4 separate regions of the Homo sapiens genome follow, and all the other regions are linked to region 1. The links come from fine-mapping of genetic effects on gene expression. A gene starts in region 1. Each other region holds a variant in brackets. All regions are shown on one strand. Distances are from middle to middle. Region 1 holds the start of F2RL1 (F2R like trypsin receptor 1). Region 2 holds the start of LOC124901199 (small nucleolar RNA U13). Region 3 has its middle 7.5 kb from the start of S100Z. Region 4 has its middle 21 kb from the start of F2RL1.

What was found. PIP is the estimated chance that this variant, and not a neighbour inherited with it, causes the effect.
Region 2: its variant is the best candidate, but not a certain one, in a credible set for the expression of F2RL1 in esophagus mucosa (GTEx, PIP 0.90).
Region 3: its variant is the best candidate, but not a certain one, in a credible set for the expression of F2RL1 in CD4 T cells (CEDAR, PIP 0.55).
Region 4: its variant is the best candidate, but not a certain one, in a credible set for the expression of F2RL1 in sun-exposed skin (GTEx, PIP 0.55).

The regions. Positions count from the first base shown.
Region 1 is chr5:76,814,336-76,822,480 of GRCh38, forward strand. F2RL1 (F2R like trypsin receptor 1) reads left to right here and starts at 4,695. Exons shown (of 2, transcript NM_005242.6): 1 at 4,695-4,929. The coding sequence starts at 4,848. RefSeq lists enhancers at 224-878, 4,411-5,028, 5,029-5,646 and a silencer at 4,429-4,723.
Region 2 is chr5:76,778,905-76,787,049 of GRCh38, forward strand. LOC124901199 (small nucleolar RNA U13) reads left to right here and starts at 5,192; the gene lies at 5,192-5,295. RefSeq lists an enhancer at 239-857. The variant T/C (reference allele first, on the strand shown) is at 4,105.
Region 3 is chr5:76,838,476-76,846,620 of GRCh38, forward strand. No RefSeq gene overlaps it. Among named protein-coding and RNA genes, the nearest start is that of S100Z, 7.5 kb to the right of the region's middle. The variant GTACATACTTGT/G (reference allele first, on the strand shown) is at 3,487.
Region 4 is chr5:76,793,912-76,802,056 of GRCh38, forward strand. No RefSeq gene overlaps it. Among named protein-coding and RNA genes, the nearest start is that of F2RL1, 21 kb to the right of the region's middle. RefSeq lists an enhancer at 4,942-5,442. The variant G/A (reference allele first, on the strand shown) is at 3,578.

The DNA.
Region 1 (8,145 bases):
TGCTTGATGGAAAATCACTCCAGGCAAAGGATACTGAGTGCAAAGGAATGACGGGGGCATACATGGCTGGAGCAGGATGATGATATGAATCACAGGCGATAACATCAAGGAGGTGGTGTGTGTGTGTGGATGGGGAAGAGGGGACAGGATGTGTAAACCTTTGATAGATTTTGGTTTTCACTCAGAGGGAAGTGGAAAGCACTTTAGTATTTTTGTTTTCTTTTCCTTTTTTTGTTCTTGGAGCAAAAAATGGAGTGTTGCTCTTGTTGCCCAGGCTGGAGTGCAATGGTGCCATCTCGGCTCACCACAACCTCCGCCTCCCAGGTTCAAGTGATTGAACAGCCTCCCGAGTAGCTGGGATTCCAGGTGCCCGACACCACACATGGCTAAATTCTTTTGTATTTTTAGTAGAGACAGGGTTTGGCCATGTTGGCCAGGCTGGTCTCAAACTCCTGATCTCAGGTGATCTGCCTGCCTCGGCCTCCCAAAGTGCTAGGATTACAGGCATGAGCCACTGTACCCAGCCTAATTTTCATTTTATAATTTTTTTTTTTTTTGAGACAGAGTCTTGCTCTGTTGCCCAGGCTGGAGTGCAGTGGCACAATCTCTGGTCACTGCAACCTCCGCCTCCAGGACTCAAGCGATTGTCCTGCCTCAGCCTCCGGAGTAGCTGGGATTATAAGCCTGTGCCACCACGTCTGGCTAATTTTTAGTAGAGATGGGGTTTCACCATGTTGGCCAGGCTGGTCTCGAACTCCTGACCTCAAGTGATCTGCCTGCCTTGGCTTCCCAAAGTGCTGGGATTACAGGTGTGAGCCAGTGTGCCTGGCCAAATAATTTTAATTTTTTAGAGACAGGGTCTCACTTGGTTGCTCAGGCTAGAGTGCAGTGGCACAATCACAGCTCACTGCAGCCTGGAGCTCCTGGGCTTAAGTGATCCCTCTGCCCAGCCACCTGCATAGCTGGGACTATAGGTGCATACAACCACCCCTGGGCAATTTTTTTGTAGAAATAGGGTCTCAATATATTGCCCAGGCTGATCTCAAACTCCTAGGCTCAACCAATCCTTCTGCCTTGGCCTCCCAAATTTCTGGGATTATAAGCATGAGCCACTGCACCTAGCCTGACTCCAAGACTTGATTTGAGCAATTGGAAGGATGGAGTTGTAATTTAAGGAGAGGGGGAAGACTGTGAAAAGGGCAGTGGAGGTGTAATGAATCAGGAAGTTAGTTTTGGACTTATGCTTGATATGCCTGTAGAAACATCCAAGGGGGGATTTTGAATAGCTAGATGAATATGCTATATGTCTGGATTGGGGAAATCAGGAGTAGAAATAGAAATTTGGGAGCTGTCAACATATAGATCGTATTTAAAACCATGGGAGTGAATGAGGTCACCAAAGGAATGAGTGTATACTTTGAGAAGAAAAGAAGTCTGCTGGGCGCAGTGGCTCATGCCTGTAATCCCAACAGTTTGGGAATCCAAGGTGGGAGGATTGCTTGAGCCCAGGTGTTCAAGACCAGCCTGGGCAACATAGTGAGAACCTGTCTCTACAAGAAATAAAAAAGTATTAGCCAGGCCTGGTGGTGTGTGCCTGTAGTCCCAGCTACTCAGGGCCTGAGGTGAGAGGATTGCTTAAGCCTGGGAGGTTGAGGCTGCAGTGAGCCATGATCGTGCCACTGCACTCCAGCCTGGGCAGCAGAGTAAAATCCTGTCTCAAAAAAAAAAAAAAGAAAAGAAGTCCAAAGACTAAGCTAGGGGCACTCACTCCAGAATATAGTGGTCAGGAGGGTAGGTGGGAACTAGCAAAGAACCCACTTCTGAGTTGCTAATGCGACAGATGGAGAATCAAGAGAAGAGTGGGCCTGGAAGCCAAGTGAATAGAGCATTCCAGAAAGAGGGAGAAATCAATCGTGTCCAATTCTACAGCTAGGCTGAGTAACTGAGAAAGGACTGAAAGAGGACCATAGGACTTACCATGTGGATTTCATTACTAACCTTGTCCAGAGTGAGTGCTCAATGAATCAGTGAATAAATGAGTGTAACTTTCTCCAACTATATTTGATTAGGACCCAGTAACTTGGGACTTTGTTTCTCCAGGAAGAGTTTGACAAATTATTTGAATGAAATACCTTTTCCCTCAATGTCTAAACTCCTCTTTGGAATTGTAGGTGGTGGAAGATTGCAGAAGGTTCCTAATCTCTGGAAGCCAGGCAGTCTAGTTGCCTGTGGTCATTTCTTTGTACTGTTCCACACAGCCATACAATACTCCAATCCCTTCAGGGCGAAGGAGTCATCAACACCTGAAAAACAAATACTATACTCCCAAAATTACAGAAAAACACCTGCAAACTGACTCAAGTGAGTTTAGTTCATTTAGTCAGGCTGGGGGAAGAAACCACATTTTTGAGATAATTAACTCATAGCATTGTTCAATAAAGTCTTTTATTGGAAATTGTGATGATTCAAGGCATATTCCCATAAAATACAGTGAAAATTTAAATCGAAAGCAGCTGGACCCTGATGTATTGTTCTCTGAAAGAGGAAGATTCCACCTTAAAGGCAGTCATTCTATAGCAGTTCCCATTTCTTAGGTGCTTACTATATACCAGAAACGGTACTAAGAAGTGCTTTATGGACATTTAGCAAAGTGAATCCTCACAACCACCCTACGAGAGAGGTACTAGTATCATTCCCAGATGATAGATGTAATATTAATAAGCTACAGATGAGGAAATGGATGCTTGAAAAGTTTGAAGGGACATCTTAGGAATCAGTTATCTCCCCTGGGGAGGGACCTTCAGGAATGGCCTGATCCCTATCAGGAGAGCTGTCCGCTGTTCAGGATGTCAAAGGTTCCTGTTCTGCTTCTAGAAGTCAGCTTTTCCTGGGAGGAAAAGTGGGCATGGGCTGAGGTGAGAGCTGGGGTGCAGGTGGAGTATGAAGACTCCTCAGAGAAAGGAAATAAACAAAAAATATTTATTGAGCTTCTACCATGTATCAAACCCAGTCACTAGTCACTATTTTATCCTCAGACAGACACCTATAAACCTTTAAACCACGTGTGTGTGTATATATATATATATTATAAGAAAGCTTAGAGAGGATAAGTAAACTTGGGATCACACAGATGTCAACAAGGGGAGAAGCCTGTCCGGGTGTGGTGGCTCATTCCTGTAATCCCAGCACTTTGGGAGGCTGAGTGGGGAGGATCACATGAAGCCAGGAGTTCCAGACCAGACTGGACAAGATAGGGAGACCCCACTTCTATTTTCTAATAGAAATTAAAATAAAAAATAAAGAAAATTTCTTTATACATTGAGCTGAAATTAAACCCCACTGTGGCTTCCACCAATTTTTGCTCTCTGGAGCAACTCAAAACACATCTAAATCCTCTTCTACAAGCGAATCCTTTAAATATTTGAAAATACCTATGTCTCTCTTCTGTGCTCTTCTGGTACCAATAGTTTAAATGGGTAACAGTAGACTTTGTTTTATTCAATCTTTTAAAAAGCAAATAAAAAGTAAGACATGCTGGGTGCGGTGGCTCACGCCTGTAATCGCAGCACTTTGGGAGGCGGAGGTGGGCTGATCACGAGGTCAGGAGTTCGAGACTAGCCAGACCAACATGGTGAAACCCCGCCTCTACTAAAAATACAAAAATTAGCCAGATGTGGTGCACGCCTGTAACTCCAGCTACTCGGGAGGCTGCGGCCAGAGAATTGCTTGAACCCAGGAGACAAAGTTTGCAGTGAGCCGAGATCACGCCACTGCACTCCAGCCTGGGAGACAGAGCGAGACTCCGTCTCAAAAACAAAAAGTAAGACATTACCAATATGATGCCAACCCTCATGCACTCATCCCCAACCCCACACTTCTCTTCTCCCACCCCTTCTATCTGCTTTTGTATTTATTTAGCCTATGGGATCCCAATGCAGAGGAGCCCTGGTGGACGCATTTATAGTGCAGCGATGAATAGAAGACAGTGATAGTCTTATACTGGAGTTGAAATGTGATAAACATTTATACACTGTGTTTATAAGTCGTGTAACTCTGGCCAATTTATCTGGTCTTTCTAAGCTCACTTTCCTCGTCTGTAAAATGGGAAGAATAATCATACTTATTGCGCTGGTTGTTATGGGGATTAAGCAAGATAATTCTCTAAAGCTTTGGCACTTGGCGCTGAAAGTAGCCATTCCATGTCTTCTTTCCCGCCCCGCCTCTTGTGCTCCCCACCGCTTTCGTGATGTCCGCAGTTGCCCACCTGCCTCTACAATAAAAAACGCATCCCTCCTCCTGCAGGGTCCACCGCACCGGGAAGCCCTGTCTGTATCAGTTACCAACCACAATTGCAGTGAGTACGAATCGTGGCTTTCCCACAGTCAGGAAAGGCAAGGGAGACCGACGACCCGCTTCTCTAGGAGTAAGTAAAGATTAAAGGTAGTTCGCGGTATAGCCTAGGCAGGGATTAACCCGTGGTCCCAGCGCTCCTGCTATTTGCATTCCAAAGCAGACACCTCATGCGCTCAACCCCGCCCGCAGGCGGCTCCCGCAGTCTAAGGGACCTGGCGCGAGTCCGGGAAGCGGAGGGCGCAGCTGCGCAGGGAAGGGGGCCGGGGGCGGGACCAGGGCGCGCGTTCCGGTCCCGGGGCGTGGCCTCCCGCAGGTGAGTACGCTGCTCCTTCGGTTTCCCTGAAACCTAACCCGCCCTGGGGAGGCGCGCAGCAGAGGCTCCGATTCGGGGCAGGTGAGAGGCTGACTTTCTCTCGGTGCGTCCAGTGGAGCTCTGAGTTTCGAATCGGCGGCGGCGGATTCCCCGCGCGCCCGGCGTCGGGGCTTCCAGGAGGATGCGGAGCCCCAGCGCGGCGTGGCTGCTGGGGGCCGCCATCCTGCTAGCAGCCTCTCTCTCCTGCAGTGGCACCATCCAAGGTGAGAAACCTGGCCAAGGAGGGCTCTTATCTCTGAGGAGCTGGGGTCCTGGGCACGCTGGGCAGACGGTGGGATCCGGGCAGGTGTGCGAAGGCTGTTCTGCTGCCGGCACCCATCTCTACGAATCCCTTAGCCTCCCCTTGGTGGCTTTGATGTGAGGTCTCTGCGCCAAGGAGGCACCCAGGTGGGACATGCGGGAGCAGCTGAAGTCAGCGGAGCCGGGCAGAGGCAGAGATTTCCCCAAAGACCCCACTTCCCGTAGAGGCTGTCATGCTGGGCACCTCCAGGCCCCAGCGTGGGTTCGGGGAAAGGGAGGGAAGGAAGGAGTAGCTGTGTCTAAAGGGTACGCAGAGGACCTAGTCCCCTCCCCGGGCTTGGTTGCTTTGTAAACACTAAGTCATTAAGAGCTTTTTGCCAACTCCGGAGACTTCCTCCGCTGGCCCCGCGGGGCCGGTGGGGTTAGCGAGCTGATTGCGCAGGGCAGGGCGGAGTGGGTGGGAACCCGCGGCCCGGGAGCCTTCTAGGTTGTTTTTTGCGTCCCTCTCCAACTGCTGGAAGCCTTTCTTCGGGTTCTGGCCCCTGCGTTCGAGACCCACCCGGGTCCCGCTGCTCCTGGCACCCACAGTGGAAGGCCCGGGGTATGAAAGTCAGGGCCGGTCCCTGATGGGTTCTGGTGGTAATGAGCGCTCAGGCCCGTTGGGCGCCACGAGGATTTACGAGCGGAACTTTTTGGACCCTGCCTTATATTTGACCAGTTGACCCTCTGGGCCTGGGGTTCCGGGACTTTCCTAGTGTGCCACCCGGAGCGGCCACTGGCTGCCACCCAGGTCTGCAGGCCAGAGGCTGGCTGGCCTGGGAACAGAGCAGCACTTGCGCCCGGCCGTCGCGTTCCTTGGATGTGCTGCTCCGGGTGTGCTCGAACTTGTATTGCTGGGAGTGTGTTCTTCCGGGCCCAGCAGGCCTCGCTGTGGCCGTGGGGGATGTTTGACCTGCGATCGCGCCACTGTGATCCTAACCGAGGCCCCTCTGTTTGGGGCAGCCTGGGTAGCAAAGGGAGCTTTTAATTTCCCTCAGAAATGCGCATTTCTCACTTTTATCCTCCTCTTCATAAAGACGAAGTAAAAGAGCAAGTCACAGTGGGTTGGAATTAGATGGAAGAATGTGATTCTTTTCCCTCTGCAGTTAGGGAAAAGGGTGTTAATGGTGTAAGCTTGAAAACTGTGCACCGCTGGTATATTTTTTTTTCTTAATCAGCATCAGAATAAAGGCATTTAGTTCCAGGAAGTATTGAAAACTGTAATGGACACCTCTCCTCTATGTCCTTTAAAGTTGGAAACTTAAAATTCAGGAGCAAAGGTTAGTATGTGCAAACTTTAAAAAAATACATGTTGGTATAGCTGATTCAACATCTTTATGATTCAGAGATCCCTGTAGGAAGCATGCCCCGATTATTTGTCTTGTTCTTGTTTACTACTCTTGGGGGATTGGGAGATCCCTGGATTATAAGGCGAACTTGATTTAACAATAAGGAAAAATCAGGTTACTTGTTAACTATAGCCACTTAATATTGCACCTTGTTCCTCATCCTCCCCCCACCATACTTTTATTCCCTTGCAAAGTAACTTTCCCAAAGGGTTAGTGAAGTAACACTGACAATTGATTTAGGCAGATGGAGCTTTCCTCCCACCTTAAAACTAAATTGATTTTAATAAGAAATACAGTGTTAGCAAAGCTTTTCTGCCCTCAGGGTGGGTCTTTGCTCACTCGCTTTTTAGCCGGTCCTTCTGCGTGCCCCTCAGGTGGCTGCAGGGCCGATTTGGGGTTTGATTTTCTTCCCAAAGCCTCACTCCAAAAGACTGCCTCATAGAAACGAACTCAGCCGAGATCACAACCTTCTCAGGGTACAGGTGAAGGACACTGAATTGAGGAGGCAAGGCAAGGAAAACACTTGGAAATCAGGGCTTCTCTTTCCCTTTACAATAGTAATTGATAATTATTTGGGTAAACATGCTTAATATGTGTCCTCACTGCATCGTTAACTCCTGGAGGCAGGGGGCCCTACCATCCTTTCCATCACGTCTAGCATAGTCTCATCACCTACGGGACCTCAGTAAATAGCAAATGAATGAAGTGAGGAGTCTTGCCCAGAGTACCCTGGCTGGTCCATGTGGTGTTCATTTCAGTCAGCTTCTCTCTGCCACTTACTTATTTTTTTCCACCATGTTACAGGCCTAGGTCATTCCATTTATCTTTTGGAGACTGGAACTTCTGTTTTCTTTATAATTGGTTTGGTGGTTTTTTTTTGTTTTTTTGGTTTTTTGGGTTTTTTTTTTTTTTGACTCTCATTCGGTTGCCCAGGCTTGAGTGCAGTGGTGCAATTTTGGCTCATTGCAACCTCCACCTCTCCCGGGCTCAAGGAAGTCTCCTGCTGCAGCCTCCCGAGTAGCTGGGACGACAGGCACGCACCACCACCCCCAGCTAATTTTTGTATTTTTAGTAGAGACAGGGTTTCACCATATTGGTCAGGCTGATCTCAAACTCCTGACCTCAGGTGATCCACCCACCTTCAGCCTCCCAAAGTGCTGGGATTACAGGCATGAGCTACTGCGCCCTACCTATAATTGTTTTTTAAATTATAAAAACAATATGTGATCACTCGAGGGAAAAATGAGCCAAAACAAAAAAAGGAAACATTTAATTAAATCACCCTGAACTTCAGTACCAAAGTAGCCACCGCTAATATTTCGGCTTATATATTTTCCCACTCTTTATTACATCCATGCACAAAATATGTATTCACAAATACAGAAAATATGTTTGTGCAAGTATGGGATTATATAAGCACATCAGTATCATGTCAATACATATAAAACATTTTTAATGACTCCAAAATGTTACAGAAGGATGCATCAATTTTAAAATTAGTCCTTTGTTGATAGACATGTGGTATTTCCATTTTTTTTTTCCCCCTGAGATAGAATCTCACTCTGTTGCCCAGGCTGTAGTGCAGTGGCACGATCTCGGCTCACTGCAACCTCTGCCTCCCAGGTTTAAGTGATTCTCATGCCTCAGCCTCTGGAGTAGCTGGGACTACAGGCGCACACCACCACATCCAACTAATTTTTGTGTTTTTGGTATAAACGGGGTTTCGCCACGTTGGCCAGGCTGATCTTGAACTCCTGACCTCAAGTGATCCACCTGCCTCAGCCTCCCAAA
Region 2 (8,145 bases), 35 kb before region 1:
CTATTGAAAACTCCTAGTTTCTAAGGGATATCAGCACATGAGTTCCCACCTCTGTTATCCAGGCCATATAAATATCATTGATTGTACACCCATAGACAAAATAGAAAGCAAAACAAAAACAAAAATGAGGAAGTCATAGAAGAGGGTAGTAACATTTTAGCCAGAGAAAAACTACTCTAAATGGAGGAAGTCAGAAAATAAGGCAATCAGCATCATATTGCAAATGCAATGGAGAGGTAAGGTCATGTTACAATGTAGCCTACTAAAGAAAAACAAAACAAGCAAAACAAAACCCCTGAAGTTGAAGATGTGGTTCGTTTATTTATTTATTTATTTATTTATTTATTTATTTATTTATTTATTTATTTTGAGACAGAGTCTCGCTCTGTCGCCCAGGCTGGAGTGCAGTGGCGCGATTTCGGCTCACTGCAAGCTCTGCCTCCCGGGTTCCCCCATCTTGGTTGGTTGACCGCATAACAATGAATCCATCACAGAGCCCTTAAACGGGCCAGTTTGGATAACCAGCAGGTGTTTTGAAAAGCTACTGATTTAGGCCAAATTAGAAGGAGGGGCAATGGGTTGCCTTGGAGAAGCAAACAGGGGCGGCAGACTGAACTGTAAATCACTCTCGGCTCTGGGCTCTCTTTCTTTTTTCCTCTTTCCCATATGGGCTTCCAACCCTGGGAGCCATTTTTAGGGTGAACAAAGGTATCTGTGGAATGTTCATTTGTTTCTATTATTTGCCACAAGCAGTCTTTGTTGTTTTTTTTTTTAACTTGAATACTTAACACTCCCTCTTAAAACCAGGACTCAGTATAAAAACTATGCTTCACACTGTTTGCAAGAGCCAAACATTGGACACTCAAATGTCCATTAAAAATAGGATGGGGGCTGGGCTCAGTGGCTTATGCCTGTAATCCTAACACTTTTGGAGGCTGAGGCAGGTGGATCGCTTGAGCTCAGGAGTTGGAGACCAGCTTGGGCAACACAGCAAAACTCTGACTCTACAAAAAATGCATAAGTTAGCTGGGCATGGTAGTGTGCACCTGTAGTCCCAGCTACTCAGGAGGCTGAGGCAGGAGAATCACTTGAGCCAGGGAGGTTGAGGCTACACTGAGCCATGATCACATCACGACACTCCAACCAGGGTGATGAAGTAAGATCCTCTCTCAAAAACAACAAACAAAAATATGGGACCAGGTGTGGTTGCTCATTGTAATCCCAGCACTTTGGGAGGCCGAGGCAGGAGGACTACTTGAGCCCAGGAGTTAAAGACCAGCCTGGGCAACACAGGGAGATCCCGTATCTACAAAAAATAATAAATTAGCTGGGCATGGCTGGGTGCAGTGGGTCACGCCTGTAATCCCAGCACTTTGGGAGGCCAAGGAAGGCAGATCACAAGGTCAGGAGATCGAGACCATCCTGGCCAACATGGTGAAACCCCGTCTCTACTAAAAATACAAAAATTAGCTGGGCATGGTGGTGTGTGCCTGTAATCCCAGCTACTTGGCAGGTTGAAGCAGGAGAATCCCTTGAACCAGGGCGTCGGATGTTGCAGTGAGCTGAGATGGCACCATTGTACTCTAGCCTGGTGACAGAGCGAGACTCCATCTAAAAAAAAAAAAAAAAAAATTAGCTGGGCATGGTAGCAGGTGACTATAGTGACTATAGTCCCAGCTACTCTGGAGAATGAGGTGGGGGAATTGCTTGAACCCAGGAGGTTGAGGCTGCATTGAGCTGAGATTGTGCCACTACACTCCAGCCTGGGCAACAGAGTGAAACTCTGTTTCAAAAAAAAAAAAAAAAAAAGATATGGATAGGGCTGGTCATGACGGCCTACACTCGTAATCCCAGTGCTTTGGGAGGCCACCACGGAAGGATCACCTGAGGCCAGGAGTTTGAAGTTCCAGTGATCTATGATTGTTAGAGGCCTTTGAACTAGAGCAACTCCATCTTCAGTAGGGGCTGGGTAAAATAAGGCTGAGTCCTACTGGGCTGCATTCCCAGTTAGGCATTCTAAGTCACAGGATGAGATAGGAGACCAGCACAAGATACAGGTCATAAAGACTTTGCTGATAAAACAGGTTGCAGTAAGGAAGCCGGCCAAAACCCACCAAAACCAAGATGGTGATGATCGTCCTTACTGCTACACTCCCATTAGCACCATGACAGTTTACAAATGCCATGGCAACGTCAGGAAGTTACCCTATAGGGTCTAAAAAAGGGGAGGCATGAATAATCCACCCCTTGTTTAGCATATCATCAAGAAATAACCATAAAAATGGGCAACCAGCAGCCCTTGGGGCCGCTCTGTCTGTGGAGTAGCCATTCTTTGGTTACTCTACTTTGCTAATAAACTTGCTTTCACTTTTCTCTAGGGACCTGCTCTGAATTCTTTCTTGTGCAAAATCCAAGAACCCGCTCTTGGGGTATGGATCAGGACCCCCCCTTCTTGTAACATCTTTTTGGCAACCACAGAAGGGACTATAGTGCGGTAAACCCCTGACCCAAAGGCTAACTTTGGGTAAGTGGTAGGGTCCGGTGACATCTTTCTGGCAAACCCTGAAGGGATGATACTGAAGAAATCCCCTCACTCAAAGGAAAGAGATTGGTTGACTTTGGATAAATTGGTGGGGTACCTGGGTGAAAAATGGGATTGGGTGAGAGGCCCAACTTAGAGGAGTTAGAGTCTCTCCTAAGACAAAGAGGGTTAAAGGCTCCTCTCAATAAGAGGCAAGGACACTTGACCAACATTGGGTTCAAGGCCCAACTTAGGAGGGTTAGAGGCCCCTCTCAGTAAAGTCCCTTTCGGCTAAATATGGGTTTGGCACTACAGGATGTTAACTGCTACTCTCTATGGAATAATCTGCTTTGCACTCTTTGCTGATGACTGTGGGTGTCAGGATTGGCATGTACAGGATTGTGGGACATGGGGAGCTTTTTCTTTCCTAAAAGGGGAAACTTGAGAGCTGACAGGACTGCTGGAAAAGATTCCTTCTTGACAGGCAAGCAGCCATCTGAACTTTTGAGTAATGGGCGGGTCTTACTCTGGTCTCCCTGAGCTCTTCACTTTTCCCACCCTGCCTCAGGCAATGCGCTCTTTCTCTCTCTCTCTCTCTCTCTCTCTCCCCCCGCAAACGGGTTAAATGAATGCTAAAAATCACTGTTTATCCCAGGCGTAGTGGCTCACACCTGTAATCCAGCACTTTGGGAGGCCGAGGCGGGCAGATCGCCTGAGTTCAGGAGTTCGACACCAGCCTGGGCAACACGGTGAAACCCTGTCTCTACTAAAAATACAAAAAATTAGCCGGGCATGGTGGCAAGTGCCTGTAGTCCCAGCTACTCGGGAGGATGAGGCAGGAGAATCGCTTGAACCCGGGAGGCAGAGGTTGCAGTGAACCAAGATCATGCCATTGCACTCCAGCCTGGGCAGCAGAGCGAGACTCCAGCTCAAAAAACAAACAACAATAAAAAACAAAAACAAAAATCACTGTTTATCTCCTCTGTAAAGTTTTGATTAATGGAAAAAAGGATTACTGAGGCTAATCTTAAACTGTAGTGAATCTGGTGTGCTTTGTGTATCTTTCTGTATTGTTCTGTCAAGATGAGGAGTACCTTAGGATAGAATGTGGACCTAGGACCCCTATATGCCTGCTGTTCAAGACAGCCCAGCAAACTGGTTAGTCATTTCCTTGGGAGACTGACCTTGTAACCATGTAGCTGTGCTTTCTCTTTTCACAATGGTGGCCTGGGTTCAGGGTCCTGGTAAAAAAAAATGATGGTATTTCCACATAATGAAAGGTTATACAGCAATGAGAATGAATAAGCTACAACTATAAACCACAACCGGAATGAATCTCACAATGTGAGGACCAAAAGAAGCCAGACAAAAAAAGAGTACGTAGTTTACGATTCTACTTGTGTAATGTAAAGGTCAAAACTTTAACAATAGACAAAATTGGGCCGGGCGTGGTGGCTCATGCCTGTAATCCCAACGCTTTGGGAGGCTGAGGCAGGTGGATCACGTGAGGGTGGGAGTTCGAGATTAGCCTGGCCAACGTGGTGAAACCCTGTCTCACCATGTTAGCCAGGCATGGTGGCAGA[T/C]GCCTGTAATCCAGCTACTCAGAAGGCTGAGGCAGGAGAATGGCTTGAACCTGGGAGGTGGAGGGTGCAGTGAGCTGAGGTCACGCTGCTGCACTCCAGCCTGGGTGACAGAGCGAGACCCCATCTCTCAAAAATAAAGATAAAAAATAAAAATAGACAAAACTAATCCAGTTTTAAAGTTCTTGAGTGAGACAGGGTCCCACTCTATCACCCAGGCTGGAGTGCAATGGTGTGATCTTAGCTCACTGCAGCCTTGCATTCCTGGGCTCAAGTGATCCTCCTGCCTCAGCCTCCCAAGTAGCTGGGACTACAGTCACACACAACCACACCCTACTAATTTATTTAATTTTTTGTGGAGATGAGATCTCACTGTGTTGCCCAGGCTGGTCTCAAACTCCTGGGCTCAGGGAGTCCTTCTACCTCAACCTCCCCAAATGCTGGGATTACAGGTGTGAGCTGCTGTGCCAGCTAAAAACTAATCTATTATTCTAGAAGTTAGAACAGTTGTTACTGTTGACGAAAAGAGTCAAACTCTGTAAAATATTTAAAGAGGTTTACTCTGAGCCGAATATGAGTGACCATGGCCCAAGAGACACTCTCAAGAGGTCCTGAGAAATGTGTCCGAGGTGGTTCAGTTACAGCTTAGTTTTGTATGTTTTAGGGAAACATAAGACATCAATCAATACATGTGAGGCATACATTGGTTCAATCTAGAAAGGCAGCACAACTCAAGTCGGGAACTGTGCTTCTAGGTGACAGGTAGGTTCAAAGATTTTCTGATTGGCAATTGGTTGAAAGAGTTATTACCTAGAGACCTGGAATCAATAGAAAGGAGGGTTTGGGTTAAGATAAGGACTTGTGGAGACTTCAAGGTTCTTATTATGTAGATAAAGTCTCCTAGGTGGCCACCCTTAGAGGCAAGAGATGGCAAATGTTTTCTATTTAGAACTTTAAAAGGTGCTGGTCTCTCAGCCAGTCTCTTCAGGATCGGAAAAAGACTTGGAAAGGGAAGGGGATTCTCTATAGAAAGTAAATTTCTCCCACGAGATACAGTTTTGCAGAGCCATTTAAAAATACGTCAAAGTCGATCCTTTTGTAGTTCAAGAGCATAATGATCGGGCGTTCACATGCGTGTGTCAGATGTGCCACCCTCGAACCTTGTTAGGATGTTGGCACATTACCTGTCTGACATAAAAGGAAAATAATAAATAAAAATATGTCAAAGGAATATATTCTGGGGCAAAAGATTTTTATTCCTTTCAGGATCTGCTATCTGTCGTGTGATGCTATACTAGAATCAGGTTGGAATTTGGTATTTTATTGCTACAAAGAATCTGCTTTGTCAGTCATAAGATCTCTGTTTTAATGTTAATGCTGGTCAGCTGTGCCTGAATTCCAAAGGGAGGAGAGTATAATGAGGCATATGAGACCCTCATACCCGGGTTTGAAATCCCCTTGGTGGAGAGGAAGGGGTCTGTTTAGTCATTTGGGGGAGGAGCTTATAATTTCATTTTTGGCTCACATTACCCTGGTGGGAATTCGTGACTGGAAGACAGCACGAGGGAGTCTTCCAGGATTCTGGTAGCATTCTGATTCTTGATTTGAATTCTGGTTCTATGGATATGAATTTTATAAAAATTCATGAAACTGCAAACTTATCATATGTACACTTTTTTTTTTTCTTGAGACAGAGTCTCACTCTATCATCCAGGCTGCAGTGCAGTGGCATAGTCTTGGCTCACCGCAAACTCTGCTTTGCGGATTCAAGCGATTCTGGTGCCTCAGACTCTTGAGTAGCTGGGACTACAGGCGTGCACCACCATGCCTGGCAAATTTTTGTAGTTTTAGTAGAGACGGGGTTTTGCCATGTTGGCCAGGCTGGTCTTGAACTCCTGACCTCAAGTGATCCACATGCTTCAGCCTTTCAAAGTTCTGGGATTAAAGGCATGAGACACTGCACCTGGCTGACATGTACACTTTTTGTAGGTATGTGATACTTCAATAATTTTACATATATTTTAAAAATTAAATAAATGTATGTATTTTAAAACCTAGCCTCATGTGCATACACACAAAAAAATAATTACATCATATAGAACTTCATAAAGAATGTCCAAAATTTAGAAACACACATACACACACGTGTGCAAACACACACATGCACAGTTAGGAGAAAGAGAGATCCTGGTAGTGTGATAGAAAAAAGAGGTTCAGCCAGGTGTGGTGGCTCAAGCCTGTAATCCCCGCACTTTGGGAGGCCGAGGCGGGCGGATCACGAGGTCAGGACAACGAGACCGTTCTGGCTAACACGGTGAAACCCCATCTCTACTAAAAATACAAAAAACTAGCCGGGCGTGGTGGCAGGTGCCTGTAGTCCCAGCTACTTGGGAGGCTGAGGCAGAAGAATGGCGTGAACCCGGGAAGCGGAGCTTGCAGTGAGCAGAGATCACGCCACTGCACTTCAACCTGGGCGACAGAGCAAGACTCCGTCTCAAAAAAAAAAAAAAAAGAAGAAGGTTCACATTTGTGGAGTGTGATTAAAAAAAAAACAATCCTCAACCCCTAGAAGATGGGAAGAAAGCAGGTTTGAGGAGGAAGAAGAATTAGAAAGCAGTATAGTATGACTCACCCAAGAACAATGACAACCAGCACTGCCCTTTGTCACTTGGACTTTGAACAAACAGTTGGTAAAATTATTTTGAGGTGTGGGTGAGTAAGGGGGTGTGCCCTGGGGCATTACTTGCTCAAATTGGTTTCTGCCCTGTATGAGATCAACACATAGATCACACATTAACTACTCCCATCCCACTTGAAAATGGCCCGTATACCATCAGGAGAAAGACCTCGACCATTTCCCATGATTATTCTTGTTATTCTAACATCCTTCAGATTGAGTGTTAAGTCCATATATTATGAAATTAATGAATCTTTCCAGAATCTCAAGCAGCAGTTCTATTATAATGTAAATCAGAAATCTTTGAGACGCTCCTTTTTTTTTGAGACAGAGTCTCGCTCTGTCGCCAGGCTGCAGTGCAGTGGCACAGTCTCAGCTCACTGCAACCTCTGCCTCCTGGGTTCAAGCGATTCTCCTGCCTCAGCCTTCCGAGTAGCTGGGATTACAGGTGCCCACCACCAAGCCTGGCTAGTTTTTGTATTTTTAGTAAAGACACGGTTTTGTCATGTTGACTAGGTTGGTCTCGAACTCCTGACCTCAGGTGATCCACCTGCCTCAGCCTCCCAAAGTGCTGGGATTACAGGCATGAGCCATCGCACCTGGCCTGAGAAACTTGTTAAAAACACAGATTTCTTGGGGCAAAGATTCAGCAGGTGACCGGTGGATCCGAAGAATCTTCATTTTAACCAGCTTCCCTTGCCTTTCCATCTGCCATAAAAGTCTGGATTTTAGCCGGGTGTGGTGGCTCACGCCTATAATCCCAGCACTTTGGGAGGCCGAAGCAGGCGGATCACCTGAGGTCAGGAGTTCGAGACCAGCCTGGCCAACGTGGTGAAACTCCGTCTCTACTAAAAATACAAAAATTAGCCGGGCATGGTGGCGGGTGCCTGTAATCCCAGCTACTCGGGAGGCTGAGGCAGGAGAATCGCTTGAACCTAGGAGGCGGAGGTTGCAGTGAGCCAAGATCGCGCCATTGCACTCCAGCCTGGGCAACAAGAGCGAAACTTCATCTCAAAAAAAAAAAAAAAAAAAAAAAAAAAAGGCCGGGTGCAGTGGCTCACGCCTGTAATCCCAGCACTTTGGGAGGCCGAGGCGGTTGGATCACGAGGTCAGGAGATCGAGACAATCCTGGCTAACACGATGAAACCCCGTCTCTACTAAAAATACAAAAAATTAGCCGGGCGTGGTGGTTGGTGCCTGTAGTCCCAGCTACTTGGGAGGCTGAGGCAGGAGAATGGCATGAACCCAGGAGGCAGAGCTTGCAGTGAGCCAAGATCGCACCACTGCACTCTAGCCTGGGCAACAGAGTGAGACTCCGTCTCAAAAGAAAAAAAAAAAGTCTGGATTTTATCTGTGCATTTTATGTG
Region 3 (8,145 bases), 24 kb after region 1:
ATTTCTCTAAACTGAGTCCTAAAATGTCTGAAAATGTAAATACTTTGAACTCCACAGGCTTATGTACTAACAGTGAGGCCTCTTAATTTGAAAGTGAACGAAGATTTGCAGTCCTGATGCTCAGGACAAAGGCCAGTGCTAAACTGACTCGGCTGGAGTTGTTTTATGGGCTTTTTCCTAACGTGTCACCTCAGTGGTTTGCAGCAGGAGTTTCAAACCTGTAATTAATTTCCTGGTTATCAAGGTTTCATAAACTTTAGGGCTATAATCTCATCAGTATGCATAGTTTAGTGATTACAACTTTGTTCCTGAAACATTAACCCTTTGGAGGCCCCTGAGAGGACTATAATTTATTGCAGAATCAAAGGTAGTACTTGCTGTCCTCCGGATCTTGATTAAAATGATAAGTTTTTGCTTGGGTGTTTAGATGTCTTCTCAAAAAGAAGTTTCTGATGTGGCCAGTCCTTTCCTGACCCCCAGTTCTGAAGACAAAAACCAAGCCCTTAGTGATCAGGGATCTAGCCCTACATTTTATTCAAGCCTTGGAACTTCACTGAGATGATTGTCCCACTTAAATGTCAACAATTAGAGTGACTCAGACCAACCTTGGAATGCCTCTCTGGAGGGACAGTTTGAAATATTCCGTGATTTGAGTATGAACTGCTCTTGCCTCTACCAGTGGGTCAATCTATGGACTGTTTCCCAGCCTTTGTCTTTATTGGTGAGAAATTAAGCCTGACCAGAGTTACAGACAACCTCCGGTAAAAACCACAGCCCAAGCCTGCGGGCCCATCAAGAACCCAGCAGCAGTGTGAGTGGTTCAATCCTTCATCCTGTGAAAGGAAAATAAATCCTGTGGCCCCAAAATCACTAAGCTAATGGGAAAAGTCAAGCTGGGAACCGCTTAGGGCAAACCTGCCTCTCCTATTCAAAGTTACCCCTCTGCTCACTGAGACAAATGCATATCTGGGCCGGGTGCGGTGGCTCATACCTGTAATCCCAGCATTTTGGCAGGCCGAGGTGGGCGGATCACGAGGTCAAGAGATCGAGACCATCCTGGTCAGGAGTTCGAGACCAGCCTGGCCAACAAGGTGAAACTCCGTCTCTACTAAAAATACAAAAAAAATTAGCCGGGCATGCTGCTGGGTGCCTGTAGTCCCAGCTACTTGGGAGGCTGAGGCAGGAACATCGCTTGAACCCAGGAGGCGGAAGTTGCAGTGAGCTGAGATTGCGCCACTGTACTCCAGCCTGGGTGACAGAGCAAGACTCCATCTCAAAAAAAAAAAAAAAAAAAAAAAAGCATATCTGATTGCCTCCTTTCTAGAGGCTAATCAGAAACTCGAAAGAATGCAACTGTTTGTCTCTCATCTACCTATGACCTGGAAGCCCCCTCCCCGCTTCAAGTTGTCCTGCCTTTCCAGACCGAACCAATGTTCATCTTACATACGTTGATTGATGTCTCATGTGTCTCTAAAATGTGTAAAACCAAACTGCTCTGAGCACTGTGAACCCTAAACATTTGAGACAGTTCTCAGTTAATTTAGAAAGTTTATTTTGCCAAGGTTGACGCATGCCTGTGACACTGCCTCAGGAAATTCTGACGACATGTGCCCAAGGTGATCAGGGCACAGCTTGGTTTTACACATTTTAGGGAGACATGAAACATCAATATATGTAAAATGTACATTGGTTTGGTCTGGAAAGGCGGGATAACTTGAAGCAAAGACCAGAAAAGCAGGGAAGGGACTTCCAGGTCACAGATAGGTGAGAGACAAACTCTCTTGCATTCTTTTGAGTTTCTTCCTTTCCAAAGAAGGCAATCAGATATGCATTTATCTCAGTGAGTGGAGGTTGACTTTGAATAGAACGGGAGGCAGGTTCGCCCTGTGCAGTTTCCAGTTTGACTTTTAACTTTTAGCGCAGTGATTTTGGGGGCCCAAGATATTTTCCTTTCACACCACCTTGGGCACATGTCGTCAGGACCTCCAGAGGCTGTGTCACGGGCATGTGTCCTCAACCTTAGCAAAATAAACTTTCTAAATTAACTGAGACCTGTCTCAAATATTCAGGGTTCACAATTCCACAAACATTCATTGCAACATTACTGCATTATTAAATGCAAATAATTAAATTAGGATTTCCACCTTAACAGCTATCCAGTTGAGGGGTTGATGTTCTCTCAGTGGAATACATCAATATTTAAAAAAAAAACACAAACCCCAGAAACCTAACCCTCCAGTATATGGGCTTCTCAAAAGCCTTTAAAGCATAGCTTATTCCAGAGCTAGATCCTGAGACAGGCAGAAAGTCAAAGTAAATGTGAAGGACAAGAAGTTTCCAGAAGGGCCACTACTATGGCTTACCCCCCTAACCACTGCTTTGTTTACACCATTGCTTGAGCCCAGCAGTTCAAGGCTGCAGTGAGCCACGAAGCCATGATCACACTAGTGAGTAGCTACTACACCCCACCCTGAGGAACATAGTGAGACCTCATCTCTAAAAAATGAAAAATAAATAAAAAGAAGAAGAACTGAATAGAATAGAATAGATGGCAAATAGGCATATTGAAACATAAAAGATGCTTAGCCTTAGTCATTAGAAAAATGCAAATTAAAAAACCCATACCTATTGAGTAGCTAAAATAAATAAGTAAATCTGAGAGTATAAGTATATAATGAGAAATGAACACCCTCCCTACCCACCACATGGGAACCCGTTTATACGCCCTCTGTATATTCTTTGAGATGTTTTTATGCATGTATAAACATGTATACATGCTTTTTAAAAATAAAAGGAGTTACACCATGTATTAGTTAAATTACACATAAATTACCTCAAAATTTAGTGTCTTAAGACAGTCATAAACATTTACTAACTTTCACAGTTTCTGTGGGTTATGAATTCAGGAGCAGTTTAGCCCAATGGTTCTGGCTTAGGATCTCATGAGGTACCAGGTAAGATACTGGCTGGAGCTGCTGCTAGCTGAAGATGTGACGGGGGCTGGAGGATCCTCCACAGGGCTGGCATGTTGGTGGCAGAAAGCTTCAGTTCCCCTCCACGTGGGCCTCTTCACAGGGCTGTTGGACTGACCTCATAACATGAAGATTGGTGTTCCCCAAAATGAGTGATCCATGAGAACAAGGGGAAAGCCACAATGCCTTTCATTACTTAGCTTCAGAGGTCACACACCATCACCTCCACCATGCTAGCTCCAATTGCTTGGTCAGACAAGCTAGCTCCAATTCAATCTGGGAGAAGACTACCTAGCATAAACACCAGGAGGCGAGGATCACTGGGGATTACATGGGAGGCTGGTTTCTGCATTATATACGTGAACACATCTTGGATATGATTGCCATGTTAGCATTTACAGATTGACCTCATTATTTTAAATGGCTATCTCCATGTGCACATATACCATAATTTATGGAATCCAGCTTATGCTATACTTATATTGCTATATAAATAATATTTGAGTGGAAATCT[GTACATACTTGT/G]TAATTCAATATTCTTCCACCACGCACTATGTGCCAAGTCATCTTCTAGGCAGTAAGGAATATTGTGGAGAACAAAATAGACAAGAACTCTATTCTCATGGAGTTTACTTTCTGATTGGAGAAAGACTGAAAACAAAACAAAATATCCAATAGTAGTAAATGCTAAGAGTATTTTATATTGGGAGATCAGGGAAGGTTTCTAAGGAGGTGAAATTTAAGTGGCAATGTAAAGGGCAGGAGAGCCAGCCATGGGAGGATCCCAAGCAAGGGCTTTATGGGAATGAGTAAGGGAAGGAAGAGTATGAGCAAGTAGGCTGGAGAGAGGCAAGAGCTTGATAACTGAAGGGAACTGTAAGGGAGTAAGGAGCTTGATTTTCTTTCTACATGGGATGCCATAGGTTTGTTTTACTGCCCATTTAAAAAATCACTGGTGGCCGGGCGCGGTGGCTCACGCCTTTAATCCCAGCACTTTGGGAGGCCAAGGCAGGCGGATCACGAGGTCAGGAGTTCAAGACCTGCCTGATCAACATGGTGAAAGCCCGTCTCTACTAAAAATACAAAAATTAGCTGGGCGTGGTGGTGTGCACCTGTAATCCCAGCTACTCAAGAGGCTGAGGCAGGAGAATCGCTTGAACCCGGGAGGCGGAGGTTGCAGTAAGCTGAGATCATGCCACTGCACTCCAGCCTGGGTGACAGAGCGAGACTCCCTCTCAAAAAAAGAAAAAAATCACTGGCTATTATGTGGAATAGGGATTATAGAAGGACAAGATGAGAAAGCAAGAACAATTTGGAGTAATCCAAGCAAGAGGTGATGTTGGCTTGAATTAGGGTGGTGCTAACAGAGAGGGAGAGAAGAAGCCTAAAGTCAACAGATGTGAAAAGAAGAGGAATCAAAGCTTGTGCCTAGAGTTTCTGCTTGATGGATAATGGTGAAATAATTAGGAGTGAGCATGTTTGGAGGTTGAAAGTTAAGAGTTCTGTTTTGACCATGGCATCTTGAGATTGAGATGCCTGTTAGACATCCAAGCAGCATTGTTGAGTAGGAGGTTGGGTGCGGTGGCTTACACCTGTAATCCTAGCACTTTGGGAGGCTGAGGTGGGAGGATCATGTGAGCTCAAGAGTTTGAGATCAGCCTGGGCTACGTGGCAAAACCCTATCTCTACAAAAGATAAAAATAATTAGCCCAGTGTGGTGGCATGCGCTTGTGGTCCCAGTGTTACTCAGGAGGCTGAGGTGGGAGGATTGCTTGAACCCAGGAGGCAGAGGTTTCAGTGAGCTGAGATCGTGCCACTGCACTCCAGCCTGGGCAACAGCGCGAGAAAAAAAAAAAAAAAGAACTTGGTGAGGTTACCTATGTTACTAGAAAGGGGTCCAGATCCAGATCCCAAGAGAGTTTTCTTGGATCTCACTCAAGAAAGAACTCAGGGCGAGTCGATAAAGTGAAAGCAAGTTGATTAGGAAAGTGAAGGAATAAAAGAATGGCTACTCTGCAGACAGCAGCCCCCATAGCTGGTGGTTGCCCATTTTTATGGTTATTTCTTGATGATATGTTAAACAAGGGGTGGATTGTTCATGCCTCCCCATTTTAGACCATATAGGGTAACTTCCTGATGTTGCCATGGCATTTGTAAACTGTCATGGTGCTCGTGGGTGTGTAGCGGTGAGGATAACCAGAGGTCACTCTCGTGGCCATCCGGTTTTGGTGGGTTTTAGCCGGCTTCTTCACTGCAAACTGTTTTATCAGTAAGGTCTTTATGACCTGTATCTTTTTTTTTTTTTTTTGAGATGGAGTTTCGTTCTTTTTGCCCAGGCTGGAGTGCAGTGGCATGATTTCGGCTCACTGCAACCTCCACCTCCTGGTTCAAGCCATTCTCCTGCCTCAGCCTCCTGAGTAGCTGGAATTACAGGCATGCATCACCACACCCGGCAATTTTTTTGTATTTTTAGTAGAGACGGGGTTTTGCCATGTTGGTCAGGCTGGTCTCGAACTCCTGACCTCAGGTGATCCACCCGCCTCGGCCTCCCAGAGTGCTGGGATTACAGGTGTGAGCCACCACACCAGGCCATGACCTGTATCTTGTGCTGACCTCCTACCTCATCTTGTGACTTAGAGTGCCTGTCTGGGAATGCAGCCCAGTAGTGTTCAGCCTTATTTTACCCAGCTCCTATTCAAGGGTTGCTCTGGTTCAAATGTCTCTGACACCTAGTGGAGAGAATATAGATGAAGAAAAGAGGGCCCTGGACAGAGGCCTTCAGCATGTAGACTCTTTTGAGCAGAGGAAGGGCCAGTAAGAGACACTGAGAAGGACCAGCCACTATGGCAAGAAGAAAGTCCAGCAAATATGCTGTCAGGAAAGCCAAGGGCATAAAGGACAGAGTAATCAATCATGGTGAAAATTACTAAGAAGCCAAGTGAGATATGAACAGAGGAGTGACTACCTGAGCTTGCCCTTGGAGAATGTTGGTGACCTTGGCAAGACCACCCTCTCAGTGATGTGATGGGGAAAGGAAGCCAGAATAGTGTGTTCAAGAAAGAATTAGAAGGAAGGAAGTCCACACAATGACAGTGACAATCCCTTACAGCAATTTTAATTGTGAAAGGGAGCAGGGGAATGCGGAGGCAAGAAAGGCAATGAGAGTCATTCAGCAGAGAGGGAGACAGTGTGTCTTTGCATGTATTGTATTTCTATAAGTGAAGGTGGAAGGATCTCTTGAGCCCAGGAGTTCAAGGCCAGCCTGGGCAATGTGGCAAGACCCTATCGCACAATAACAACAACAAAAGTAGCCAGGGGAGGTGCTGTAAACATATTGTCTCAGCTACTTGGGAGGCTGAGGCAGGACGATCGCTTGAGCCCAGGAGTTAAAGGCTGTAGTGAGCTGTGATTGCACCACTGCACTCCAGCCTGGGCAACAGAGAGAGACTCTGTCCAAAAATAAAAATAAAAAAATAAGAAGTGGAACTTCTGGGTCAAAGGATACATGTAATTTTGATTGTGGTAAGTTGCCCTCCTAAGGTGTTGCACCAGTTACACACTTGCCAAAAATGTGTGTCTGTTTATCTAGAGTGTTGTAAACACCACATTTTCATGGTCTTTTATTTGCCAGTCTGAACTTCACAAATTTTGAGTGTAATGATAATGCAGGACCATAAGCATCTAGGAAGAAATAGAGCTTTGCTTTCTTCCTTTATTTACTGTTGGGAACAGGTCCCCCAAAATCTGGCCATAAACTGGCTCCAAAACTGGCCATAAACAAAATCTCTGCAGCACTGTGACATGTTCATGCTGGCCATAACGCCCACGATGGAAGGTTGTGAGTTTACTGGAATGAGTGCAAGGAACACCTGGCCCTCCCAGGGCGGAAAACTGCTTAAAGGCGTTCTTAAACCACAAACAATAGCCTGAGCGATCAGTGCCTTAAGGACATGCTCCTGCTGCAGATAACTAGCCAGACCCACCCCTTTATTTCAGCCCATCCCTTCGTGTCCCATAAGGGATACTTTTAGTTAATCCCATTTCCCATAAGGGATACTTTTAGTTAATCGAATATCTATAGAAACAATGTTAATGACTGGCTTGCTGTTAATAAATACGTGGGTAAATCTCTGTTCGGGGCTCTCAGCTCTGAAGGCTGTGAGACCCCTGATTTCCCACTTCACACCTCTATATTTCTGTGTGTGTGTCTTTAATTCCTCTAGTGCCACTGGGTTAGGGTCTCCTTGACTGAGCTGGTCTCGGCAATTTACTTTGTATTTTAGGCATATTTTCCCCCTGCTATTCCTCACCACCAAGGCAGTGACCCTCAAAAGGTACGGCCTTGCGGGAAGTTGGTCCCATTTCTCTTTGTATTAGCTCTGAGAGGAAACCTAAGCTATTCTTCTAGGTGGGCTGCAGAAAACTTCTGTGCCGTGTGGAACATCCTTTGCTCTGATGAGTTTTCTATCATTCTTTTTTGGAGAACATGAGGGCATGGCAGCAGCCACTACAGCAGGAGCCTGGAGTCCCAGCTCTGGGCCCTAGCCAGCTCACCTGCATATGAGGGATTAACTCTCAACACTGCTGGATCTGGCTCAGGTCTGAGTTCCTCACCTCAGCTCCACCATGTAGCCTGGGGTGAATGGCAAACCCATGGAAAGCGTTTAATTATAGCTTCTATGTACCATCGGGTAGACTCAATTACCTAATCCCGAGAAAGCAGTTTTAGCCAAGCCTTATGTTGTGAACTCTTTCAGAGGCCACCTGGGCTCTTGCAGGGGAACTGTGTCTAGTTCTTACCAGTGGAAGTCAGACTTTTTTCTTTAACCAGAGATTTGTGTAAATGGGAGACTTTGTTAAAAATATAACAGATTTATCAGAATTTATGGCTTAAAAAATTGCAGCACAGGGAGGGAAATGATGGTGTTTATTCTAGTGACCATTTCTGTCCATTAAAACTGAAATTCTTTTTTTTTAATCTTTTTAAAAACTGTGTTTTTTTTTTTGAGACAGAATCTCGCTCTGTTGCCCAGGCTGGAGTGCAGTGGTATGATCTTGGTTCACTGCAGCCTCTGCCTCCTGAGTTCAAGTAATTCTCCTGCCTCAGCTTCCCTAGTAGCTGGGATTACAGGTTTCCGCTACCACACCTGGCTAATTTTTGTATTTTTAGTAG
Region 4 (8,145 bases), 20 kb before region 1:
CAAGTAGCTGGGACTACAGGTGCTTGCCACCATGCCCAGCTAATTTTTTGTATTTTTAATAGAGATGGGTTTTCACCATGTTAGCCAGGATGGTCTTGATCTCCTGACCTTGTGATCTGCCTGCCTCGGCCTCCCAAAGTGCTGGGATTACAAGTGTGAGCCACCATTCAAAGTTGTTTTAACAATCTTATAAATTCCTTTTTTTTTTTTTTTTTTTGAGACAGAGTCTCACTCTGTTGGCCAGGCTGGAGTGCAGTGGTACAACCACGACTCACTGCAGCCTCAACTTCCTGGGTTCAAGTGATCCTCCCACCTCAGCCTGCCAAGTAGCTGGGATTAATTTTTTCTATTTTTTGTAGAGATGGGGGTCTCACTATGTTGATTGGGCTGGTCCCAAACTCCTGGGCTCAAGCAATCCTCCTACCTTGGCCTCCCAAAGTGCTGGGATTATAGGCATGAGCAATGGCACCCAGCCTTACATTCTTTTTGTAAGTTCAGGTGAGTTTGATCTTGTATCATAATAGTGAAGGCCCTCCTTTTTTATGTATCTTTCTTCTTTTTTATTTATCTTTATCCCTCCCTCCCTGTCTCCCTCCCTTCCTTGCTTCCTTCCTTTCCTCCCTCCCTCCCTTCCTTCCACGGAGTCTCTGTCGCCCAGGTTGGAGTGCAGTGATGCGATCTCAGCTCACTGAAACCTCCACTTCCCAGGTTCAAATGATTCTCCTGCCTCAGCCTCCCAAGTAGCTGGGATTACAGGTGCCCACCACCATGCCCGGCTAATTTTTGTATTTTTAGTAGAGACAGGGTTTCACTATGTTGGCCAGGCTGGTCTTGAACTCCCAACCGCAAGCAATCCGCAGGCTTCAGCCTCCCAAAGTGCTGGGATTACAGCCATGAGCCACAGCACCCGGCTTATCTTTTTTCTTTAAAATAATACAAACTCATTCAAATATACTTGGAAAATACGGAAAATAATAGGGAAGGAAATAAAAATCAACTATTTCATCATTCAGAGATGATGATGATTCGGATGATTTCATCACTCAGAGTGAAATAGTTTGTGCTGCCTAACCAAATTCAAAATCTTGGCAGTTTACAACAACAAACATTTATTTTCTCCTTCATGGGCCCATGGCTCCACTGGGTCTCTGAGTGCCCCGCTGGGCTTGGCTGGGCCTGGGTTCAGGCTATGAGTTGGGTTAGGTCTGCTGCACGTGTTTTCTCATTTTTCTCAGATCAGTAGCTTCTGGGAGATATTTTTTCTCATGGAAGACCACAGGAATGCAAAGGTGTGAGCAGAAAAACAGGAAGCCTTTTAAGGTCTTCACTTAAAACTAGCATGCTGTAAATTTTACTCACATTTCACGGGCCAACACCAGTCCTTTGGAGGCTGAGGCAGAAGGATTGCTTGAGCCCAGGAGTTTGAGACCAGCCTGAGTAACATAGCAAGACCCTGTCTCTAAAAAAAAAATTTTTTTTTTTTTTTTAGATGGAGTTTTGCTCTTGTTGCCCAGGCTGGAGTGCAATGGCGCGATCTCGGTTCACCACAACCTCTGCCTCCCAGGTTCAAGTGATTCTCCTGCCTCAGCCTCCCGAGTAGCTGGGATTACAGGCATGTTCCACCACGCCTGGCTAATTTTTGTATTTCTAGTAGAGACAGAGTTTCTCCATGTTGGTCAGGCTGGTCTCCACTTCCTGACCTCAGGCGATCTATCTCAACCTCCCAAAGTGCTGGGATTACAGGCGTAAGCCACGGCACCCGGCAAAAAAATTTTTTTAATTAGCCAGGTGTGGTGGTATACACCTGTAGTACCAGCTATTTGGGAGGCTGAGGTGGGAGGATCACTTGAGCCTAGGAGGTTGAGACTGCAGTGAGCTATGATCATGCCCATGCACTCCAGCCTGAGTGACAGAGCAAGACCCTGTCTGGTTTTTCTTTTTCTTTTTTTTTTTTTTTTCAGATGGAGTCTTGCTCTGTTGCCCAGGCTGCAGTGCAGTGGTGCGATCTCGGCTCACTGCAACCTCCGGGCCCCCCCGATTCAAGTGATTCTCCTGCCTCAGACTCCCGAGTAGCTAGGATTATAGGCGACTGCCACCATGCCTGGCTAATTTTTGTACTTTTTGTATTTTTATATTTTTAGTTTCACCATGTTGGCCAGGCTGGTCTTGAACTCCTGACCTCATGATCCGCCCACCTCAGCCTCCCAAAGTGCTGGGATTACAGGCGTGAGCCACCAAGCTAGGCCACTGCTCACCCAATTTTACCAACAAGAAGACTGAGGGTTAGATGATAGCTTCTTAAACTTTAAAGTATCTATGCATCACTGGTGGATCTTGTTAAAATTCAGATCCTGATTCAGGAGGTCTGGGGTGAGGCCTGGCCCACTTGGAAGTAAAAGGCTAGAAGGTCTAAGTCATTTGCCTCAAGGTCACCCCACTGGTAAAGTTCAGTGCCAGGTTTTCAACCTAGCTTCAGTCTGACTCTAAAACCTGTACTTTTATCATCTCTCAGAGACCCTGCTCCAAGATCTCTTGCAACTCTAAAATTCCAATTCTGGTGCCAGATTAATTGGAGAAATGCAAATAAAATAACAGCAAGCATGTTCTCGTGTCCCAGCTGCTCCCAGTGGAGTAGTGGATGGAGATGCTTGGTTACTTTCTCAGGTCAAAGGAGGCTTCTGGGCAAGGCAGGAGCAAGCTTCTGTACTTTTGTTTTGTTTTTTAAGATATGGGGTCTTGCTATTTTGCCCAGGCTGGTCTTGAGCTCCTCGGCTCAAGCAATCCTCCTGCCTTGGCCTCCCAAAGTGCTGGGACTATGGGTGTGAACCACCACACACAGCCTGTACTTTCATAACTATATGACACTCAAAAGAATTCCTTCTTTGGCCTAGAAAGCCAAACCGACCCACTAGTGGTACAACTCAAAGACCTGCCTCAGAGCTGCAGCAAACGTATAAAGAAGTCATTATAAAAATAGCAACCACAGGTCGGGCGTGGTGGCTCATACCTGTAATCCCAGCACTTTGGGAGGCCGAGGCAGGTGGATCATCTGAGGTCAGAAGTTCCAGACCAGCCTAGCCAACATGGTGAAACCCCGTCTCTACTAAAAATACAAAAATTAGCTGGCAGTGGTGGCGGGCGCCTATAGTCCCAGCTACTCGGGAGGCTGAGGCAGGAGAATCACTTGAACCCTGGAGGTGAAGGTTGGAGTGAGCCGAGATTGCACCATTGCACTCCAGCCTGGGCAACAAGAGTGAACAAAACTTCGTCTCAAAAAAAAAAAAAAAGCAACCGCATATTGTGCCCTTAACTGTGTGCTAGGCACTTATTAAATTTTCATGATAGCCCTATGAGGTAGGACTGTTATCATTATCTTTACCCTCAAATAAGGAAACAGAGGTTAAATAACTTACCCAATGTACAGCTAGAGAAAAGCAGAGGCAGCATTGACTACCAGAGCCAGGGTTTTACGTAGACATATGTTCTATGTAGCGCTGTTTTCAATTAATCATTCCAGCTGATTATGAAAAAGGATGGCAGCCTTGGGACAAAGGGTTTCTATACACTCCCACGCCCA[G/A]TAAAATCCCCCATCAGACATGATGACTTACATATATGGAATCATATATGAAATGGCTGGTCCTCTTCTCTAATCTTCTTCTGAGAAAAACATCTGCCAAATAGCAAAATAAGATACAGTCTCATGGCCAGGCACAGTGGCTCACGCCTGTAATCCCAGCACTTTGGGAGGCCGAGGCAGGCAGATCACCTGAGGTCAGCAGTTCGAGACCAGCCTGGCCAACATGGTAAAACCCTGTCTCTACTAAAAACACAAAAAAATTAGCCAGGCATGGTGGCAGGCTCCTGTAATCCCAGCTACTCATGAGACTGAGGCAAGAGAATCGCTTGAACCCGGGAGGTGGAGGTTGCAGTGAGCCGAGATCACACCATTGCACTCCAGAAAAGAGCGAGACTCTGTCTCAAAAAAGAATTTAAAAGTAAATAAATAAAAATAAAGATACAGTCTCAGAAATTATGGATTAACTAATATAGTTGGTTCAACTCAATTCCTCCCTGTTCATTCTTTTTTTTTTTTTTTTTGAGATGGAGTCTGGCTCTGTCCCCCAGGCTGGAGTGCAGCGGCGTGATCTCGGCTCACTGCAAGCTCCGCCTCCCAGGTTCACGCCATTCTCCTGCCTCAGCCTCCAGAGTAGCTGGGACTACAGGCGCCCGCCACCACGCCCGGCTAATTTTTTGTATTTTTAGTAGAGACGGGGTTTCACTGTGTTAGCCAGGATGTTCTTGATCTCCTGACCTCGTGATCCGCCCGCCTCGGCCTCCCAAAGTGCTGGGATTACAGGCGTGAGCCACCGCGCCCAGCCCAATTCCTCCCTGTTCATTCTAAGCCTACTATTTGCTCATGATCCATGCCTTCTAGTTAATTGAACTGTCATTTAAGAGACAATTTATGGCCAGGTGGAGCAGCTGAAGCTTGTAATCCCAGAGCTTTGGGAGGCTGAGGCGGGAGGATTTGGTGAGTCCAGGAGTTTGAGACCAGCAAGAGCAACATAGCAAGGCCCTGTCTCTACAAAAATTTTTTTAAAAAATCAGCCGGGTGTGGTGGCATGTGACTTGGTCCCAACTACTCAGGAGGTTGAGGCGGGAGGATCGCTTGAGCCCAGGAGTTCGAGGTTGCAGTGGGCTATAATCACACCACTACACTCCAGCCTGAGCAACAGAGTGAAACCCTGTCTCTTTAAAAAAACAACAAAAAAAGATCATTTATATATATGACCTAATAAGAAAATACACCACAATACTTCATAAAGTAGAATCTCATATCAAAGGATCAAAGGCCTAATCTGTGACGATAATAACAGCTAGCATTTGTTGATCATAATTTATGTCCTTCTTTTTTTGTTGTTGTTCTTTTTAAAAGTTTTTTTCATTAAAAAAAATTTTAACTTAAAGAGATAGGGTCTCCTTATGTTGGCCAGGTTGGTACTGTCTTCTCATGCTCCCCCACCTACCTGGCCTCAAGCGATCTTCCTACCTCATCCTCCCAAAGTCCTGGGATTACAGGCACTGTCATAATCTATGTCCTTTGGACACATTATCTCATTTAATCTTCCCAACAACCTTATGAAGGAAGTTATTAGGAAAACTGGGTTTGAACCAGGCAGTCTGACCCCAGCCCTTACATACCACTGTCCTAACCCCACACAGAGCTTTACTTCCTCTCTCTGAAACCAGTCCTCCGTGCTGTGCACCCTCTGATGGGGGGAAGGTGTGCATTGTTTGGAGTTATAAAGAGAGGCCTAGGCGGCTGGGCGCGGTGGCTCACGCCTGTAATCCCAGCACTTTGGGAGGCCGAGGCAGGCGGATCACAAGGTCAGGAGATCGAGAACATCCTGGCTAACACGGTGAAACCCCGTCTCCACTAAAAATACAAAAAATTAGCTGGGCATGGTGGAGGACTCCTGTAGTCCCAGCTACTCTGGAGGCTGAGGCAGGAGAATGGTGTGAACCCAGGAGGCGGAGCTTGCAGTGAGCTGGGATCGCGCCACTGCACTGCACTCCAGCCTGGGCGACAGAGCCAGACTCCGTCTCAAAAAAAAAAAAAAAAAAAAGAGAGAGGCCTAATGAAGAAATGGTAGCTGATGGACCTTGGACCAATAAATCAGGCACCAACTTATCTTTATCAACTGCTGGGTACAGTACCAGAACATTATAAATAGACAATAAATGCTTAGTGAGCCCAAATATCTTGTTTAATTAAGAGTTAACTATTGAAGGTGGTCTTGTGTGTGTAGAAATGAGGGGCAGGGCATGCTGGTTGGAGGGCATGTTGCAGCACATCTTTGCCAAGAATGAGCTCAGCCTGTCCTGGAGAGTCAGCTTGTCAACAATAGAGAATTCATTCAGTTGTTCAGCAAACAGGTTTTGAGCATCTACAATGTGCCAGGTACTGTGTTACGGGTTAAGGATATAAAGATGAATAAGACACAACCCCTGACTTCAAATGCTTCATGGTCTTAAGAGGTTTGGTGAGGAGGGGCAGACAGGCACAGATGGAAACAAAGACATGTGCCATGCAGGCTTATAAATGACTTTTAAAGGGTCTAGAGAAAGAGCTGAGGATGAAGAGAGAAAAAGCTGATGGGGGAAGGGAGAGAGAAGTTGGCCATTGACAATCAGGACCCTAGAAGCAGTGAGACACAGAGGACAAGGAGGTCAGTGTGAGAGTGTTGGTGTAGGTGGGGGAGCATGAGAAGACCATGGGCAGAAGAGACCAGCTAGGGCATTGCAGACCCAGGTAAAGCGCCGCTGGACTCCTTGTACATGCACACTCAGTCCCCAAATAGATGCCTTTAGACATGATCCTCTGGTAAGATTAAAAAGGCAGCTGTTTTCCGTGTTTCAGGCAACAACTTCTAGGAAACACTTATGCATTTGCCTTTCTTTCTTTTTTTTTTTTTTTTGAGACGGAATTTCACTCTTGTTGCCCAAGCTGGAGTGCAATGGTGCGATCTCGGCTCACTGCAACCTCCACTTCCTGGGTTCAAGCGATTCTCCTGCCTCAGCCTCCCGAGTAGCTGGGATTAGAGGCACACACCACCACCCCCGGCTAATTTTTTGGATTTTTAGTAGAAACGGGGTTTCACCCTGTTAGCCAGGCTGGTCTCAAACTCCTGACCTCAGGTGATCTGCCCGCCTTGGCCTCCCAAAGTTCTGGGATTACGGGCGTGAGCCATCACACCCAGCTGCCTTTGCCTTTCTTTTTAACTCCTAGTGACCTAGTTATTGAAAGGAGCAGGAAAAATGGTCACACCCCTAACATTCCTGCATAAAGTATTTTTAATATCAGAAGTAATCCAGTAAATCTTCATGGAGTGTCTACCATGGACCAGGCAGGGGCCAAGGAGCTGAGGATACAGCTGTGAACAGAACCCCTGACTTCATGGAGTTTACATTCAAGTGGGGCCACAGGCAGCCAAAAAACCCCAATAGATACACAGCATGTGAGGGAGTGACATACAACATAAGTAAAGGAAAGAAAGCAGGGTAAGGAGAGAGAATGAGGCTGGGGAGGGGATATTCTGTATGGGTGGTACCTGTAATCCCAGCATTTTGGGAGGCCAAGGTAAAAGGATCACTTGAGTCCAGGAGTTCAAAACCAGCTTGGGCAACATAGTAAGACCCTGTCTGTACAAAAATTTAAAAATAAAAAAAAAATAAATAAATGAAAAGACCACTCTGATGGAGTGACAGTGGAGCCAAGACCTGAAGGGGTGAGAAGTTAGCAGATGGCTTGTAGAAGAAGAAATTAAAGTGCTTGATGTATTTTAGAAGTTACAAGTAGGCCTGTGTGGCTGGAGAGAGCATGGAAGGGAAGAGTGGGAGGAGAGGAGCACAGAGGGCCGGAAGTTAATCCTGCAGGGGACCTTTGGCTTTTGCTCTGAGTTAGACGTGAGCCTTGGAGAGTTTGCACAGAAATGGGCCAAGGTCTGGTTTACCTTCTTAAGGATAACTCAGGCTTCTCTGTGAGGGCTGGAATGCAGGAGACAGGGTTGGGCAAAAGGAAACCAGCTGAGAGGCTATTGAGAACTGGGAAAGGGAGGCTGGTGTTTTGGGTGAGGGTGGGAGCAAGAGGAAATTGCAAAAGTTTATCTTGTTCCGGAAATATTTTGAAGGTAGAGCCAAAAGGATTTGCTGATGGGTTGGATGGGAGAGAAAGTGAGTAGTCAGGATGACATGCCTTCCAAGCCTTTTGGCCAGACAAGCTGGGATGGCTGCCAGTTATTAAGACCGGGAAGACTTCTTGAGAAGAACCTCTTTGAGGATGGAATTCAAAAGCTTGGCTTTGGACACATTAGTTTGAGATGACTATTAGGATATACAATATCCTAATTGTACTGGGGACAGTAGTTATCAAAGTAAAGATAGTAAAGATAGTAATTAAAGTTACAGGACTGGATGAGATCACCTAGAGAGTGGTCACAGGTAGAAAAGATATCTGACCCTCAGGGCTCTCCAGTGTGTGGAGGAGGAGGCTGCAAAATAGATTGACAAGGAGCAGCCAAGGAGGGAGGAGGAGAGTCCAGAGACAGCAGTATTCTAGAAGCCAACCGCTGCCGAGAGGGGAGC